Linked DNA regions of Homo sapiens: region 2 is linked to region 1. Evidence: fine-mapped expression QTL. A gene starts in region 1. The other region holds a variant in brackets. All regions are shown on one strand. Distances are between the middles of the regions. Region 1 holds the start of SYT14 (synaptotagmin 14). Region 2 has its middle 41 kb from the start of UTP25.

Evidence for each region. PIP is the estimated chance that this variant, and not a neighbour inherited with it, causes the effect.
Region 2: its variant is the best candidate, but not a certain one, in a credible set for the expression of SYT14 in tibial nerve (GTEx, PIP 0.67).

The regions. Positions count from the first base shown.
Region 1 is chr1:209,936,064-209,941,443 of GRCh38, forward strand. SYT14 (synaptotagmin 14) reads left to right here and starts at 2,154. Exons shown (of 9, transcript NM_001146262.4): 1 at 2,154-2,214. The coding sequence starts at 2,202. RefSeq lists a silencer at 1,601-1,895.
Region 2 is chr1:209,866,771-209,872,150 of GRCh38, forward strand. No RefSeq gene overlaps it. Among named protein-coding and RNA genes, the nearest start is that of UTP25, 41 kb to the left of the region's middle. The variant A/G (reference allele first, on the strand shown) is at 3,020.

The DNA of each region.
Region 1 (5,380 bases):
TTCAGTTCCTCAGTTGCACTCCCTACGTTTAAAGTGCTCAATAGTCACAGGTGGCTACGGGCCACTGTATTGGACAGCACAAATACAGAGTGTTTTAATAGTTGCGGACAATTCTTTTGGATAGCTCTGCTGTAAGGGAACTGCAGGGAAGTACGATGAAAGGCAAGTGCTTGCAAAAGAGTTAGAAGGTAGACAAGAGGTGGATGTCTAGACAGTACAGTACCTTTGTAGTTACTACTTAACTCATTTATCCCTGAGGTTGCAATTTTTAGAATTTTTGCAATCAGACCTTGGCGATGACCTTGAGCAGCAGGATGTAAACAACTCCCGCGTGCTTAGCGTTCCAATAATGGAACACTAGGCATAAGTTAAGTTCTTTCTGTCCAACAACCTCCTTCTAGGAACTATCTTCCTTCTTCCCCAGTTCATCCACATGAGTCTCCTGGACAAATAAGTCTCCTGGACAAATAGTAGCGATGTTAATCTAGGTTATGGAAACTCACATAATCTGGTTATTTACTTAGTAACTATGTAATTGGTGAGGAAAGGATGAATACATTTTTCGGGCTTTCAATATGAAATTCTTTAAAAGTTTGAACAATTGGGTTACTCAGAACTAGCCAGAAACCACAACTTACAACTGTGGTGTCAAGTTCAGATCAATGTCTTGGAGTTCAAGACTGTTTTAAGGGAGGCTGCCTGGGGAAAATGTCATTAAACATTTTACCCGAATCCTCTAGATGTCCATCATAAACTCTCTCATGGAGCTTTCCTAAAGTATAGGCATTTTAATGTTTCCTGAGTAAAACAGTATTTTCTTTGATCCTTCAATAACAATTCTTGCTTGTAGCCAGTTTTCAGCACAGTGCCGGCTTCACAGATACTCACTGAACTAAAGAAAATGGTAAAGGATGAATGTCTATTGAGCATAAAATGCGACTGAGGGAGAGGTTATATAAAAGCAATGGAAGACAGTTTCTGCTCTAGATTTACAGTCCAACCTTACTTACATAAGTGTAAAATATTTTCTTCTTTGTTTCAGTCCCTAATATAGCTATTTTGCTCTAGGAATTAGCATTTCCTCCACAAGAGAGAATCACTAAACTCCCTATTTCTCAATGTTGTTTATGCCGTTGATTGTCCAGGTTCTCAAATTACTAAATGAAGTTGAGAGTTGGGTAAATGGTTGAGCGGTTCAAGTATCTTAAGTAAAAACTAAGTGGCCAATTGTTGTTGTGCTCAGGGTTGGCCTGGGACTGTTCACAATGGTCACAGGTTTACAAATTTTTAAAAACCTGCGTGTGACATGCTTTCCAGGTCCTTTGTCAAAACGTCCGTCTGACCCTGACTTTTGTGTGGCTTCAAATGTGCGTTTGCAATGTGTAGACAAATTCCAACTCAGAGTTCCAAGAGGTAAGCCAAGCTCTGTGTGGCAGCAAGGCTTATCAAGAGCGAGGCTAAGGGGTGAAGTGAGTGTGTGTGTGTGTGTGTGTGTGAGAGAGAGAGAGAGAGAGAGAGAGAGAGACCACTGCTGTGCTCAGGATTCCTCTCTCCTTTTTGCTTTTTGCCAACTAGCTGTTTCTCCACAGCGGAGATCTGAGACGAGTATGTGGCTGATTCGGGCAAAACAAAACAAAATAAAACCAAACGAAACCAAAACAGACTTACTATTACCAAATCTGAGAGTCAGTGGGTGGGAATCCTTTTCAACCAAGGAGACCTGTCCATGGTCCTGACCACATCATTTGCCACTCGCCTCCTTCATGGACACCGTTTGCTCCAAGTACCGGACGGGAGGGCGCCCGGCGCCAGGAAGCTTGGGCTTGGGCCCCCACACGAGCTCGGCGCGCTTCGGGCGGGTCTCGGGCGCGGGCCCGTGGCTCTCCGGGCCGGGCACCTGTTTCGAATCGAGGCGCGAGGCGCGGTGGGGCGGTGGGGTGGGGTGGGGTAGGTTGGGGTGGGGGCGGGGTGGCGTCACGTGCCAGCGGCGGCCCCGGGAAGGTTCCATTTCTTCCGCGGCCCGCACTCGCGGCGCTCGGGGCCCCTCCCTCGCCCCGCCCGCGGCGCCCCTCGCGGCCGCACAGCCGGGCGACTCCGGGCCGGGCCCCGCCCCTCTCGCTGGCGGACTCAGCGCGTCCTCCGCCAGCCCTCGCGTCTGCTGCCCCCGCCATCCAGTTGGTGCGGTCCATGGCGAGCGCATCATGGCGATTGAAGGTAAGTGGAGGCTGACAGCGGGGAGCGAGGACCGGGACCACCCAGCTGGCGGGGGGCTCGGAGGTGCGCCGGCAGGCCGAGGCGCTGACGGGGCCGCCTCCTGTGGTCTGGAGCCGGCTGAAGACGCGCGGGGGTCCTGGCCGCGTCTCGGGAGGCGGGTGGGCGGAGCGGCGCCGCTGGGACGCCGGGCCCGACTGGCTCGCTCGCCCCGGCCTTCGTGGTTTTGCCGGCCTCCCGGCGGCCGCACGCGGGGCAAAGCGGGCTGGCGGGCAGGTACAGCGTCCGGGCCGCCGCCTCCTGCCGGCCGCGCGGAGTGGAGGTCGGGGTGAGGCCCTGCAGACCCCACGGGACGGGCTGGGAGGAGCGAGGGGCCACGGGGGGCTCAGGCTGCCCTTTCTTTTCTTTCCCCGGCCGCGGCAAACCATCCTTCCGCAATACCCACCTTCCTGCCAAACTGAGAGTCCAGTTTTTTGTCCCATTCCTAACCCTTCCCTGTGCCCGCTCGGGCTGATGCTGGGTTACACTCTCTGCCCGTTCCCCTTCTGTTTGCTGTTGTAGGGGGTCCAGGAAATTTGGGGTTAGGTTAATTTCCTCCTCAAGTGGTTTTGTTCCCCGCCAACACTCAAAACTGTTTTTCTCCATGAAAAGAAGTAAATAACGTCTTTACAACAAGCACACATTCTTAGAATCCTGCAAATACCAGTCTATGAAGTGTTATAGTGCCACAATGCTCATATTTCGAAAAACAGCTTAATAAAAATTAAGTTCCTAGATAAGGTAGTTGACACTAAAGTGTATTTTTCTCTTGTTCCAGAAACATGTAACTGGGACCAAGTGTCTATATTTTGCCTTGTTTTTAAGGAAGAGATTGTGAGAATTAATTTCACACGTCTAGGATATTTATGTGAAAGATTACATCTTCCAGGCCCTGTCTCTTAGATTAACTCAAACAGTGAAAGTAATTTGTAAATTTTCCCTGTGTGTGTATATTCATCTGTGCAGCTGTGCAAGGTACCTATAGCTATATCATTATTTCTCTACATTGAAAGTGTGTTCCTAAGTAAAACTTTTTAAAGCGTTTCCCTTCTAAGTGATCAATCACTGGTAGTATGCATCTCTGGGGACTTCTTTTTGTCGGATCATGTGGACTCCAAAGTAGAGTTAGCTGTGTGTTTACATGTAGCTTATTTATTTAAGAGAGGGAGTACCTATTGTATGCAAGACACATTCAGACAGTTTCAAATGTCTGCTTGAGTTAAAATGGTGGGGAATAAGATCTACCTATAATCTATGATGTTCCTGTTATCTGCAGCAGTACTTTCAACATTTGTTTCCCTCACTGTCCTTTTACCAAAGGTTAAAAATCAAGAAACCAAACCCACTGATTTATGTTGTGTACTTTATTTTCCCAACTAGTTTGTGGTAGAGTTTCTTGTGAAGCCGTGAAACTCTACCACACTACCACACTACCACACCACGTGAAAGTAGAAAGGTTTAGGCAGAGCATGAGGAAAATCCTTCAGGCAGATGCCATTCGGATATGATGCTATAACTTGTAATTTCTTAAAATCTTTTCAGTTTTTTCCGTTTTTTCTTAGTTCTTCCTTTCTTTCTACTGGCAGTTAAGTGTTACTGATTCATTTTCCATGTCACCTGATGGCATTTTACTCTGCCTACTGCTTAACATGTTTGAAGAATAAGATTTTTTAAATCCTCACATTCTAGAGATTCTTCTGTGTTTGAGATACTCTCATAAATATTTTCATACTGAAGCATTTGCTTAAGTTTTCATAATACAAAGATCAGGAATTATATCTTTTCTAGTTTGGCAAAGAAACTGTAATTAATATTAGCACTTCAGATAAAGATGGCAGTTCGAATTAGCCTAACTGTGCTCCTTATCACATAGTAAAATAGATTCATTATGCACACCCTTCCTAGGCTGTGTTATGAAGTAGAATGAGTTCTGCATGAGACTCTGTACTAAGGACATCTTAAAAATTTAGGGGCCCAAAAGGGCGTCTCATCTTTTCAGTAAAGTGTTTCTTAAAACATTCAGTTTCTTCATTCACCTATTAATTCAGTAGACCTTTTTTTTTTTTGTACAATAGCTGTATACAATGTTCATTGCTAGATTCCATGGGGCCAAAAAGATAAGTAAGACTATAACCCTTCTCTCAAAGAGTTCATGTTCTATTCGGAGAGACAGATAATTTTAAACATGCAATTACAGTGTAGTGTGAATGCTAAGAGATGGATCATCTTTCCTTTGTATAAAAACATTCAATGATGATGGGTCTAACACTGTTTTTTGGCAGTAATTCTTATATTCATAAGGTCTTTGTATTTGGCCGAATATCTGCCATTCAGTAACGTCTGTCTACCCATCCTAGTTTTGCTTTCTGTAGCAATAAATTAAAAGCCCACTATTCTCTCTATATATGATATCCCTTCTGCCATTTGAAGACAGCTCTAGAGTGTTTTCTAGATAAAATATCCACTTCCCTCCTCTGGATGATCTGTAGTTGTATGTTTTAAAATTTGGAATATAGTAGTGGGCCATTTCATTCCAGTTATACTGTTGAATAGCATACATCAAAACTGTTATACCACTCCTTCACTTATGTGTAATCCTATTAATATAGCTTAACATTAGAATAGGTTTTTTTGGAGCTTCATGTTGGCACAGAGCGAGGCTGTAATCAACTAAAACCACAGTCTCTTTTAGCTTGACTACTCCCTTGCTTAGCTAACCAATGTTTTGAACTGAACAGATCGTTTATATCTGTTAAGCATACTCTTATTAGCTATGGCCCAGTGTTTTAGCCCTTGAGTCTAGACTTTTAAGTACTAAGGATTGTTTTCATTTTCTTCTCTGTGTAAACCTATTTTATAACACAAAATTATTTCTACTAAGTAATCATTCATTTCCTCCTTTTATCAGTCAGATGTGTAACTATTAATCAAAAAAAGAGACAAATATAAGATGATAGAGTTACCACATGGAGCTAACATAATTCCAGTCAGCAGTAAAGAAGTTAGGCTATATTAGGCAAAGTTACAATTTTTGAAAGGCATTTTGAAATATTGACAATAGTTACACATCCTTACTGTTGGCCCAGTGATCTGGCAATACCAGGTTGGGAATCATTGTTGTAGCCTAGCC
Region 2 (5,380 bases), 69 kb before region 1:
TGAGGATGTATGTCACCTCAGGACCACTATTGTGTTAACTGTACAAATTGACTGTAGAACATGTGTGTTTGAACAATATGAAATCAGTGCACCTTGAAAATGAACAGAATAACAGCAATTGTAGGGAACAAGGGAAGGCAACCATAAGGTCTGACTGCCTGCAGGGTCAGGCAGAATACAGCCATATTTTTCTTCTTGCAGAGACCCTATAAATGGATGTGCAAGTAGGGAAGATATTGCTGAATTATTTTCCCAGCAAGGAATATTAATAATTAATTCCCTGGGGAAGGAATGCATTCCTGGTGGGAGGTCTATAAACAGCTGCTCTGGGAGTGTCTGTCTTATGCGGTTGAGATAAGGACTGAAATACGCCCTGGTCTCCTGCAGTACTCAGGCTTATTAGGATGGGGGAAAAAACTGCTCCCTGGTAAATCTGAGGTCAGACCAGTTCTCTGCTCTCGAGCCCTGTTTTCTGTTGTTTAAGATGTTTATCAAGACAATATGTGCACAGCTGAACATAGACCCTTATCAGGAGTTTTTTATTTTGTCTGTGCCTCGTGATCTTTGCTTTGCCCTTTGCCTCGTGATCTTTATTGGCCTCAGAAGCATGTGATCTTTGTTCTCCTTTTTGCCCTTTGAAGCATGTGATCTTTGTGACCTACTCCCTGTTCATACACCCCCTCCCCTTTTAAAGTCCTCAATAAAAACCTGTTGGTTTTGTGGCTCAGGTGGGCATCATGGACCTACCGATATGTGATGTCACCCCCAGCGGCCCAGCTGTAAAATTCCTCTCTTTGTACTCTTTCTATTTCTCAGACCAGCTGACACTTGGAGAAAATAGAAAGAACCTACGTTGAAATATTGGGGGTGAGTTCCCCCGATAGAAAAGTACCCAAACCTCTTAGTAAGCAAACCTCTTAGTTAAGAACCTACCTTATTGGACCAATTGGTGGGAAAAGCATGGCCGTAGAAGATTGGCACTAAGGTGGGGCTGTTAAGATGTGACAAAACAAACGAAGGCTAAGCTGGTGCACATAATAATAACAGCTTCTGCTCCAGGAGACATCTGTGGGCTCCTCAATGGCTCTTCGAGCTCTCGGACGGGTCCAGCCAAGAGAAGCCCCAGCAAATGATGTCTGATCATGTGGAGGCCTTGGTTCTCAGGGTCTCCCTGCTGGGCTGCAGGTGGGTGGTGGCTGCTGTCTCTATGAAAGCCACAGCTCCTGCTGGGCCACCCTCTCTACTACAGCCCAGCCTCTGGATTCCTCCCCTTGCCCTGGGACACTCCAGCATCTCTTGTTCATTTCCCCTGACCCTGCCCACACCTCTGTGAATAGATACTTCATTAATCTCTCCTTAATAACTCACATCAATGTGCCATCTGTTTCCTCTCAGGTCCCTGAGCTTTTCTGTGTGCTAGGCACTGTTATAAATATAAATATACATTTCCTTTTTTTTAAAAAAACAGTTTGTTAAGATATAATTCACATACCATACAATGTACCCACATAAAGGGTACGATCAATGGCTTTCAGAGTATTCGCAGATATGTACAAACAATACCACAGTTAATTTTAGAACATTTTCATCACCTCAAAAAGAAACCCCATGTCCCTTAGCTACTACCCTCCTCTTCCCCACACCCCACCCCTCAGTCCTGAGCAACCGCTCACCTACTTTCTGTAGGTTTCTCTCTTTCTTTTTCACATGAATAGAATGCTATAGTATGTGATCTGTTACAACTGGCTTCTTTTACATAGCACAATGCTTTCAGGATTCTTCCATGTTATTATAGCTTATGTTGGCACTTTGGTCTTTTTTGTAGTTGAACATATTCCACTGTATGAATTTAACACATTTCATGTATCCATTTGTCAGTTGATGGACGTTGGGTTGTTTCCACCTTTTGGCTATAATAAATAATGCTGCTATAAACGTTCAGGCACAAGTTTTTGTGTGGACGTTGTTTTCATTTCTCTTTGGTATACAACTAAGAGTGGATCGCTGAGTTCTATAGTAACTCTATGTTGAACTATTTGAGAACTTGCCAAACTGTTTTTCAAAGCAGCTGCACCATTTTACATTTCCATCAGCCATCTATAAGGGTTCTGATTTCTTCACATTCTCACCAACGCTTGTTGTTATCTGAATTTTTTATTCTGGCCATCTTCGTGGTGGTGGTATCTCATCGTGATTTTGATTTCTATTTCCCTGTTAACTAATGGTGGCAAGCATCTTTTAATGAGCGTATTGGCAATATCTATCTCCTTTTATTCTCACAACTACTTTATGAGATAGGTGGGCTATTAAATCCATTTTACAGATGAGAAGAATGAGGCATGGAGAGTTGAAGTGACTTACCTAAGGTATACAGCGAGTAAGCGTTAGACTAGGATAGGAACTCTAGCAGGCAACCTTCATGCTCCTGTTAGAACACACTGCCTTTGCACAAAAGAACAAGAAGATTTGGGGGATGGCAGGGCAAGAAGGCAGGGTAGCCAAAGAACTTTTAAGAAGAGGAATATCTGCTGTGCCATTTAAAATAGCTCATGTTGCTGCATAGAAATCTCCTTCATTTCCATGTGTGAATGGTTATTTTGTGGAAAGCAAGGAAAGAGGGCCAAGTTCTTTCATGTTTGGGTTAAAGCCAGAGTGAAAATAAAGAACAGCCACAAGCAATAGGGCAGGGATCAAGAACTCAGCTGGGGCAGAAAGCTGGAGCCAGAGCTAATAAGATCATATAGATCCCTTAATAATTCACAGAAATATGGGAGAGGGCTGTAGCTTTCCACAGTCCAGACAGTTCAAACAAACCTTATCTGGATCTGAAGGGCCTGGGAGAGCCTCAGCTGGGTTTCATTTATAAAGTACTTTAGCACAAGTATGGTCATCCCCTCCCCAGTTCACCCCCACCCCGAAGTTCTTAGCCTTGTATCCAAATGAACATGTGGGCACTAAAGCCTGCTCTTTCCTCCTTCTATCTTTGTATTAACACTAAACAAACTGGCCTTTGTTTCTG[A/G]CCTTGAAGAGACAGTAAAATCAACATCATTCTCCAAAATATCCCTCAAAGATGGGCCTATAAGAATTCAGAGAGTTTAGAGAATCGCTGCTTAGAAGCTTTCTCCCCTCAAACTCATCCCAGGAATCTTCTCCCTTTTACTCCCACTCCCACCCTCAACACACCCCCCACCCACACACACACACACAAACTTCCCAATTCACTGCTAGACTGCTTGATGGTTCTCTCTGGTGAGAGAAGCCAGGGTAACAAGGAGGAGGGAATGAGTCTGCAAATCAGGTATATTTTTGAATTTCAATTCTGTATCCCCAGCATCTGTCTGCTGTTTTATCAAGAGGACCAGAGATCATTTAGGAATGATGGACAGTCCTCTGAGGAAGCAATGCCAGAAGCATGATGAGCAGAAATGCTGAACAAGATGCTGGCTGGAAGGGAAATCAATCTCCCAGGCCGATTAGTTTGGGTGGGAGCCAACAGAGGCTGAAACTTGTTACAGCTACAGTCATCTTTCTTGCTACTTTTTTTTTCTTCTAGATCCTGGAGTAAAATCAGATTAGCCTTAGCGCTCAAGGTAGCTAACTGGTCTGCACATGCCATGGCAATGTCTCAAAACAGATGACTATTATTAAAAAATTATGGAGAAATGACATGATGCATCTCTCCATTTGGTCTGTAAGATACTTAAGGACAGGGGCTATGACCTTTCTTCTATGATTTATGGAGTAACTAGCACAATGCTGGGCCCAAAAGGTCACTAAACAACTTGCTGAAGGGAATAGGCTTAAAGTAGACACGAAAGGAACTTTCTTTTTTAAAAAAATAAAACAAAGAGACTTTGTCTAATCTCCCAGCTAAGAAATGAAAGCCAGATGAGTCCAATTCATTATGATGCATAGAGAATAAGATGGATAATTATAAACAGAGAAGCCCACAGAGAAGTTTGGAGAAGGGGGTTGCTATTCAATGTTAAAAACATGATTCTCATACAGATATAGTCGAAGATTGATCTAACTTATTAGTGAGGGAACCAGTAGGAAGACAAATCCAAATCAAAGGAGAATACAAGAGGCTGTTTTCTATGATCATTGAAAGTAAGGATGTAGAAGTGGGTTTGCAAAGCTAGGCAAAACTGTTTAATGTCCTACACAGCAGCAAGATCAGACCCTTTGGGGTTATGTTTTCTATTTGACAGAATTCTTTTGCCTTTCTACTGAACAAGAGTCATTTGCAATGTAGCTATCTTTTCAAGTTAACATCTCATTTTACAGAGTCTGGCCCCTAATCATGAGTAATTGGAACCAGAGAAATGCTCTCTCTCTTTTTAAAAAAATCCTGGGCTGGTATAGCAGGTGACAGTAGCAGTTAGAAGTGTTAATCCTCTTATCTGCCTCTGTGAGTTTAGATGGAAAAGTCAGGGAAGGAAAAGTAGGCAGAGTATGCAATGTGCCTAGCGTCACTCTTGGTAAGCTACCACTTGCCTATAAATAAAAACCACAATGCATGATCACCCATAAACCCAGAAAATGGTTTTCAGAGTGATCTAATCCAACCTGCAATCCCTGGCTTCTTTTCCTCCCCTGACATTTCCATCCACATTCTTTAGGTGGAAGGTAGAAATAACCACCTATCTGAAGTGAATAGACTTACCTCTCCTTGTCTGACAGCTTAAGTCCTAGACTTATGAGCGAGACTTTCCTATTAGGAAGAGAATTAAATCATTGTTAAACAAGTGTTTGTTTTCTTTTGCTTTTTCCTTCACAGGCCAGAAGCCATTTCTCTGGATCCCACTCAAGTTTAGGTGGTTGTGCCAATAGCATCAACTGCATGGGCTGTGTTTATAGACAAGTGGTATCTGACAGTAAGGGAATTGCTTGTTGAATGACTTGGAGGATCTCCCTGCCCTATTGAACCAGGATTAATAAACTCAGCGATGGAGCTTTGGAGGCTTTGCTGTCCACCTCAGGGGATATGGCTTGGGAAGAACTCAAATTCACCTCTATGATATTCTAACACTGGCAGAGGCAAATGAGAGGATTAACACTTGTAACTGTTACTGTCACTTGCTGTACTAGCCTAGGATTTTTAAAAAAGAGAGTATTTATCTGGTTCAGCCCCATTTGCTGCTATGAACCCTCCCAGCCCCTGCCTTTTCTTCCCTGCTGGTTCTAGGGCACCCCAAGGAGCACTCCACATGGGCACATAGCACAATCCTCTGGTACGTAACACCAGTAACCATCATTTCTCTCTAGTTCTGCCCTGAATTCCTGTGCTGAGTTTCATTCCAGAGATCACATACTCCTGTGCAGCTACCTGGACACCACCAGAGCACAGACACCACCATTCATGCCAAAGCCACTGGCA